Homo sapiens: one gene and its partner. The protein of the gene in region 2 purifies or fractionates together with the protein of the main gene of each other region. This does not show direct contact. Each region holds a gene or a part of one and is shown on either strand. Other genes may lie near its edges. The genes, in order: CKAP5 and DHX29.

Region 1 (3,824 bases), on a different chromosome or scaffold from region 2:
CCCAACTTCAAAGAGAGTCTGTACCTTAAGTAGTGCAGCACAAAAGGGCTTTAGCAAGCTCTTTGGCAGGGTAGAAGCAGTGCAGTGGCGGAAACTTCTTGCAATAAAAAGAGATGTCTGCTGCTTGATGGTTGGATTTTTATTATCCATTACTGCTAAAACATCCTCACTGATGTTCTGTAGTGTGGTCTTTAGAAAGAAAATGTGGTTAATGAGCTTTTTTCAATTGTAAAGAACAATCAAAATATTATATTTACAAACTTTACTTCAGATAAAACTACAAACTCATGCTGTCAACTTACAGTAAGGAAGATTGCATCAATTGCCTCCTGCAGGGCTTGTACCACTTGAGGTTTCTTCTCTTTGAATTTCTCCAAGATGGTTGGCACAACCTGTAAAAGTGAATGGCTAGCACATTATTCAGCAACAAAGAGGAATGATATATTGATATATCCTAGAACATGGCTGAACCTTAAAAATAGTATGCTAAGTTAAAAAAAAAGCCAGTCACAGGCTGGGCACAGTGACTCATGCCTGTAATCCCAGCACTTTGGGAGGCTGAGGCAGGTGGGTTGCTTGAGGCAAGGAGTTCAAGACCAGCCTGGGCAACAGAGTGAGATCTTGTCTCTACTAAAACAAACAAAAAAAAATTAGCCAGGTGTGGTGGTATGTGCCTATGATCCCAGCTACTTGGGAGGCTGAGGTGGGAGGATTACTTGAACCCAGGAGGTCAAAGCTGCAGTGAGCTACGACTGCATCACTGTATTGTAGCCTGGGCAACACAGCAAGACCCTGTCTTCCAAAAAAAAAAAAAAAGCAGTCACAAAGACCATGTATTGTATGACTCCATTTACATGAAATGTTAAATCCAGAGACAAAAAAGTAGATTAGTGGTTGCTAGAGTCAAGGGCAGGGAGCAGCATGGGGAGAGACTGTTAATGGGCAAGGGGTTTCTTTTTGGGGTGATGAAGATGTTCTGGAATTAGATAGTGCTGATGGTTATGTAACATTGTGAATATTCTAAAATCACTTTAAGAGGGTAAATTTTATAGTATGCAAGTTTTATCTCAATAAAACTTACTTTCTAAAAAACCACCTTGTCTCCACCAAAACAAACCAATAAAGCAAACATTTAAGTGGAATAAAAAGTCATTTCCTTTCATGAAGGACATCGTATCTTATGCCGGAACAATGAAGAATTCTCATTCTCTCCCACTATGGCAGTGCTTCTCAACCTATTTGCCGCCTCTGCTCTGTCACCCACGTGGGAGTGCAGTGGGATGAACATGGCTCACTGAAGCCTCGGCCTCCTGGGCTCAAGTAATCCTCTCATCTCAGCCTCCCGAGTAGGTAGGCCTCAGGTATATGTCACCACACCTGCTATTTTTTTTTTTAATTCTTAATTTCTTGACCATTTCCCTGTAAATATAATTTTTTATTTTATTTTTTGTCGAGACGGGGGTTTCTCCATGTTGCCCAGGCTGGGGAAGAAAATTTCTAAGGTCCAAAGGACACAGCAAAGCTCAATGGCATCCAAAAACAAGAAATAATTGTTTTCAAGATTTCACAGAAGTGGTTATAGACTACTTGGTATAGTTCAAGGACTATGGTTCCCATGGAAAAATACAAGACTTTTTAATACTAGTTATAAACTTGAAAATCAAGATATTTTAATGTCTATAAAGCTAACATTCACTTTTATAAATATTGCCAAAAAGTTTGTAAACATTTAAAGAAAATAAAGCCAAGTCAGTAACATGCTTGATACTAAACACCGCATATATTACAGTATTAAGGTGGGGGAGACCCCAAACTACAGAGCAATAGAGACATTCTTTAACCAGGACAACAAACTGAAACAAAGCCAGAATCAGAACTCAAACTGGAAAGCCAGTTAATTATCCAACCATAATTTGGTAAATTAAAATGAATTTTAGGCCGGGTGTGGTGGCTCAAGCCTGTAATCCCAGCACTTTGGGAGGCTGAGGCAGGCAGATAGCTTGAGCTCAGGATTTCGAGACCAGCCTGGGCAAGGTGGCAAAACCCCATCTCTACCAAAAATACAAAAAGTACTCAAGCATGGTGTGGGGTGTGCCTGAAGTCCCAGCTACTCAGGAGACTGAGGTGGGAGGATCACCTGCGCCTAGGAGGTTAAGGCTGCAGTGAACTGAGATGGTGCCACTGCACTCCAGCCTGGGTGACAAAGTGAGACCCTGTCTCAAAAAAAAAAAACTAAAATTATTCTCTGAACTGATATTTAAGTGGTGTAGGAAAAAATTGTTTTTTATCTTGAAAAATTATTCCCAATATAAAAGTGTAAAATATCCTAAGTAATATAAAATTGATCAAAATGGCATATACACATCGATATTATATAATATTGATTGCTATAAAAATAGATTTTAATTTTATTTCAATTTATGATGTATATGTCTAAGGGTTTTACAGACCCTTATTTTTATTTCCCTAGTAATAAGCCAGTCATGATTTATTTTTATTTGGTAGTGTCTTCTTTTTCTTCAGTTAAGTTCTCTGAGATTATTTTTAATGCTATGAGTAAGCAAGCTCCAAATACCATAGCTCATGTGAGGCTAGGTATTAGCTTCACAATATAAAATGGACACATGACTAGGGACTATTAGGAAACTCCTAAGTCAGTCTAGGGAATCAAATGATGAAGGGGCTAGCAAGCTAAACTCTAAAGATCAATAAGGTCAATTTTTAGGATGCTGAGCCATTCTTAGTAATGCAGACCGGATTTAGAGGCCAAAGGACAGATGCCACAGTTAAAGAAAACATCTTAATTAAAATTATTACCAAATTTGATTGGAAACAAACTTATACAAATAGTAAGTCAACAAATGTCTCCAGTCAGATTTTCTTTGAATAAGTAAAACGGAGATAACCTATATAAAATATATAACATTGTAACCTATATAAAATGTCTCAAATATGTAAGTAAATTATATATTAAAATAGGAAAACAATGTAAAACACATTTTATATATTAACCTCACAGTTTTACATTTATAGTTTTACATTGCCTTTCCGACTCTCATTTTCATTCTGGTCCTGGTCGTTACAAGTTTTGTTTCATCTTGTTATGATGTGTATAATGTTGTAAGAACAAAGCAAGATACTAGTAAGTAAATAAGTAATAAGCAAATAAATAAACTCAACTAAGTACTTTAGGCCTAGTGCCTGACTTTCTACATAAGGCCTATAAATTTTGTTACAACTGACATCTACTGAAATTTCTAAGATATATCTATGCTGAATATTAACAAAACAGAGAGAAATTTACTTTGTACAGTATATACACATCTATGCCAAGGAGTTGTTTTAAAGCAAACAGCAAACTAGGCCTACCATTTTTGATAAATTTTGTTGATCTGTATCTAAAAAGGAGTGTTACTTACATGTCCTGCATATTGTCCAAATTTCTTCCTTAGCCCAACAGCCAGGCCAGTAAGACATTTTGCTGCCAAAGCCACCAACATGACATTGGTGTCCTTTCCAACAACCTACAAAGGGGGGTAAAAAGGAAAACAAAATAGTCACAGCCATGTAGAAGGGTATTGAAATTTTATTCTCAAAAGAACTCTGAGGCCGGGTGCAGCGGCTCACACCTGTAATCCCAGCACTTTGGGAGGCCAAGGTGGGTGGACCACCTGAGGTCAGGAGTTTGAGATCAGCCTGACCAACATGGTGAGACCCTGTCTCTACTAAAAATACAAAAATTAAGCAGGCATGGTGGCAGGCACCTGTAATCCCAGCTATTTGGAAGGCTGAGGCAGGAGAATCACTTGAACCTGGGAGGCGGA
Region 2 (3,824 bases):
CAGAAATTTATTTCTCATAGTTCTGGAGGTTGGGAAGTCCAAGATTAGGGTACCAGCAAGGGAGGTTTCATTCTGAGGCCTCTTCTCTTGGCATGTAGGTGGCCATCATCTTGCTATATGTTCACATGGCTTTTTTCTCTGTGCTTACTCAGAGAAACTGAGCTCTCTTGGGTATCTCATTTTATAAGGACACTAATCCTGTTGGATCAGGGCCCCATCCCTGTGATCTCATTTAACCTTATGTACTTCCTTAGAGCCCTTATCTCCAAATATAGCCACACTGGGGGTAAGGGTCTCAACATACTAATTTTTTGAGGACACAAACATTCAGTTCGTAACATCTAGCTTCTGCATTCAATCTGCCGTAACATTACACATCATGTAGCCAACTGGACAACCTCACTGCATAATCATGAGAAAATGAGCGTGAAAAATGGCAAAAACATCTCAGAATTATTATGAAAAGTTTTCACTTCATGGAGCCCTTGGCAAACAAGTCTCAGGTTCCTTAGGACCTCCTGAGCACACTTTGAGAAACACTGCTGTATAAGAATGATCCCAGGCCAGGCGTGGTGGCTCACGCCTGTAATCCCAACACTTTGGGAGGCCAAGGCAGGTGGATCACCTGAGGTCAGGAGTTCAAGACCAGCCTGACCAACATGGAGAAACCCCATCTCTACTAAAAATACAAAATTAGCCAGGCGTGGTGGTGCATGCCTGTAATCCCAGCTACTCGGGAGGCTGAGGCAGGAGAATCGCTTGAACTCAGAAGGCGGAGGTTGCAGTGAGCCGAGATTTCGCCATTGCACTCCAGCCTGGGCAACAAGAGTGAAACTCCATCTCAAAAAAAAAAAAAAAAAAAAAAACAAGAATGATTCCAGAATCATAAATCTAGTTGCATGGTTTTTATACACCTTAAAATAAGAAGTATTTTTTCTACTTTGAGACATTTAAACATTAAATGTTCTTATGATTTTAAAGTCAAAGACTTTGCTCTCTGCTGGGTTACATTAGGTTCTTCATTTTAAGATGGTAGCTAATATAATTAGATATTTTAAAAGAACAAAAGTTTTTGAGAATAACTACTTGAAATTAACTTGTACATCTGGGCAGTCTGAAAGAGAAACATTTGTGGTTCTCTGTCAATTACTGCTATGCTATAGTTATATCGGAGGTACCCAAAGCTACATGGCATATGTAAAAAGATAATAACAAGTCTGGTATAGTATTGTTAGTTTCCTTATCGTCTAGTCTCAAACTTTACCTTAATTCTAGTAATCTCTCCTATAAATTCATGTCAATGGTCATAAAGGAGAGTATATATTTAGTAGTCTTTAACTATTTCTGGGGAGTCTTATCAATTATAGTAAGCTTGTGCACAAATTTAGCATGCAGTTTTAGAGGTCCCCAAACACATCAAGAGGCCCCAGCTATAACCCTTTTAAAAAGTTACAGATAGATGAGCAGTACATTACCAAGACTACATGGAGAAACAGTTCAAAGTTCATATGCTACTGACAAGAGTAAGACTGTAAATTCCTTTAAAAATGCCAGCCGGGGCAACATGGTGAAACCCCATCTCTACAAAAAATACAAAATATTAGCTAGGTGTGGTGGCTTGTGCCTGTAATCCCAGCTACTTGGGAGGCTGAGATGGGAGGATTGCTTGAGCCTGGGAGGCAGAGATTGTAGTGAGCCACTGGGCGACAGAGTGACCCTATCAAAAAAAAAAAAAAAAAAAACTGGTTGGTTTTTAATTTACCCAGTTGAAAAGATTAAAGTAAAATTCTCATTTGTCTCCTCCAAACATTTCACCTAAGAGTTTCAACTGTATCACTTCCTTGAAGTTGGCTTATACTGCAAACTTCCAGAGGGTAAACAAAAGAGCTGAGTTTCTGAAAAATGATCAGAGAAATCAAGGAATCCTGCTCAACATTCACTGGGCCACGTTCACTTTTGCCAAGTAAAGTGCATAAGATTTATGACAGCTACTTTCCTTATTGCCTGGAGACTTTTACAATTTTTGGTTTTGTGTTTAAGATGGTGGAAGTTACTGGAAATCTGACTGGAAGTAAGGATGTTAGTATGCAATATCTCCAAGGCAAAGTATTATGAATTCCAAATTTATAAATGAAAGGTCATGGAACGATGCAACATATATAGCTGGCTCTCAAAAATATTTATTACATTAAAGTTGAAGCACAGACAAACTGATTTCCTCAAAATGACTCAGCTAATTAAAAAAAAAAAATCAACCAGAATCAGTTTCTTATTGCCCAATAATCTTTTCTTTTGCTACATATTCTTTTTATACTGTATTTTAAAGGAAAAAGCAATGCTAATGACCCACTATGACTAAGACATTGACTTTGAGTTGTTAGCACTCTGATTCCCTTCTGATCGACAGTGTGTACATCTGCAGAATGGTTAATCAGGCAAGGGACCCAAACAGGGACTCTGGTGGTAAACAGACCCAGTGCCTGTCCTCATGGAGCTTATATTCTGGAACAGTAATATAATTAGTAAGCAACTAATACTCAGATGAGTAATAAAGGGGAAGTGCAGAGTGCCAAGAAAATAGATGAGGGTGAATTGATGTAGTCTGAGCAATTAAGGCCTGTGAGGAAGTACACACTGCCAGGGCCGCCTGACTAATTATTTTGAAATGTAAACCAGCTAAAGTTTCTCCTCTACTTAATACCAACACCGGCCCCCACTTCCCATTGAACTTGCTCTGGCTCCTTCCCAGACTTCCAGCCACATTTTAACTTTTTCTTTCTTCGCTCCAGCCACACAGCACTATCTTCTTACAACATGTCAAACTTGTTTCCACCTTAGGGTTTTTAGGCTTGTTTTTCCCTCTGCCACAAATACTCTGCAGATCATCTCAGTTTAAATGTTTTCTAAGGGAAGCTATTCCTATTTCAAACCAAAATAGACCCTCCATTCTCCATTTAATGTTTACCAAGTCACTATTTTCTGTTCCTCATAGCACTTTTTCTATTTTAGTGACCCTAAAAAAAAATTTATAATGGCTTTCATAAATTTATGACATCCATTCCCAATTCTTATTCCCCTCTTAAAATTTTAAGCCTCAACTAGGTTCAAGGATTTTCAGAAACACAAGCCTCTTGGTTGGAAGAGAAAACTTAAATTACTGAACCTCTTATTTTGGTCTCAGTCATAACATGATAAAGCAGCTTAATTATACTTAGGCTAAGGAAGTGGCACTTCTAAAGCACAGGAATGGAAAGAAGAAAGAAAAGAAAAGAAAGGCAAAGAGAAGGACAGTAAAAGAAAGATGGGGAAAGGTCTTGCTATTTCTAGAACACTCCAGGCTTGCATCTCAAGGCCTTTCTGTTCCCTCTCCCCAGGAGACTCTTTACCCAGTCATCTGTGTAACTACTTTACCTGCCTCCTTTGCTTGCTCAAATGTCACTTTTTTTTTTTTTTTTTTTTTTGAGACCGAGTCTTGCTGTCACCCAGGCTGGAGTGCAGTGGCACAATCTCAGCTCACTGCAAGCTCCGCCTCCCGGGTTCACGCCATTCTCCTGCCTCAGCCTCTCCGAGTAGCTGGGACTACAGGCGCTCGCCACTATGCCCAGCTAATTTTTTATATTTTTAGTAGAGACGGGGTTTCACCGTGGTCTCAATCTCCTGACCTCGTGATCCGCCTGCCTCGGCCTCCCAAAGTGCTGGGATTACAAGCGTGAGCCACTGCGCCTAGCCACCTTCTTATATGATGCCTTCCTTCCCTGACCATCCTATTTAATACTGAACCTCTCCCCACCCTCCTCCCTATTCGGCCTCTTCAGAAATTCTTT

Evidence for each region.
Region 1: the proteins of DHX29 (region 2) and CKAP5 fractionate together in Homo sapiens (co-fractionation; one large-scale study listed by BioGRID). This does not show direct contact.

Annotation. Positions count from the first base shown.
Region 1 is NC_000011.10:46,797,781-46,801,604, forward strand, and holds part of CKAP5 (cytoskeleton-associated protein 5), read right to left. Parts: intron 3,525-3,824; coding exon 3,420-3,524; intron 393-3,419; coding exon 303-392; intron 190-302; coding exon 25-189; intron 1-24. UniProt on the Homo sapiens protein: Binds to the plus end of microtubules and regulates microtubule dynamics and microtubule organization. Acts as a processive microtubule polymerase. Promotes cytoplasmic microtubule nucleation and elongation. Plays a major role in organizing spindle poles.
Region 2 is NC_000005.10:55,300,871-55,304,694, forward strand, and holds part of DHX29 (ATP-dependent RNA helicase DHX29), read right to left. Parts: intron 1-3,824. UniProt on the Homo sapiens protein: ATP-binding RNA helicase involved in translation initiation. Part of the 43S pre-initiation complex that is required for efficient initiation on mRNAs of higher eukaryotes with structured 5'-UTRs by promoting efficient NTPase-dependent 48S complex formation.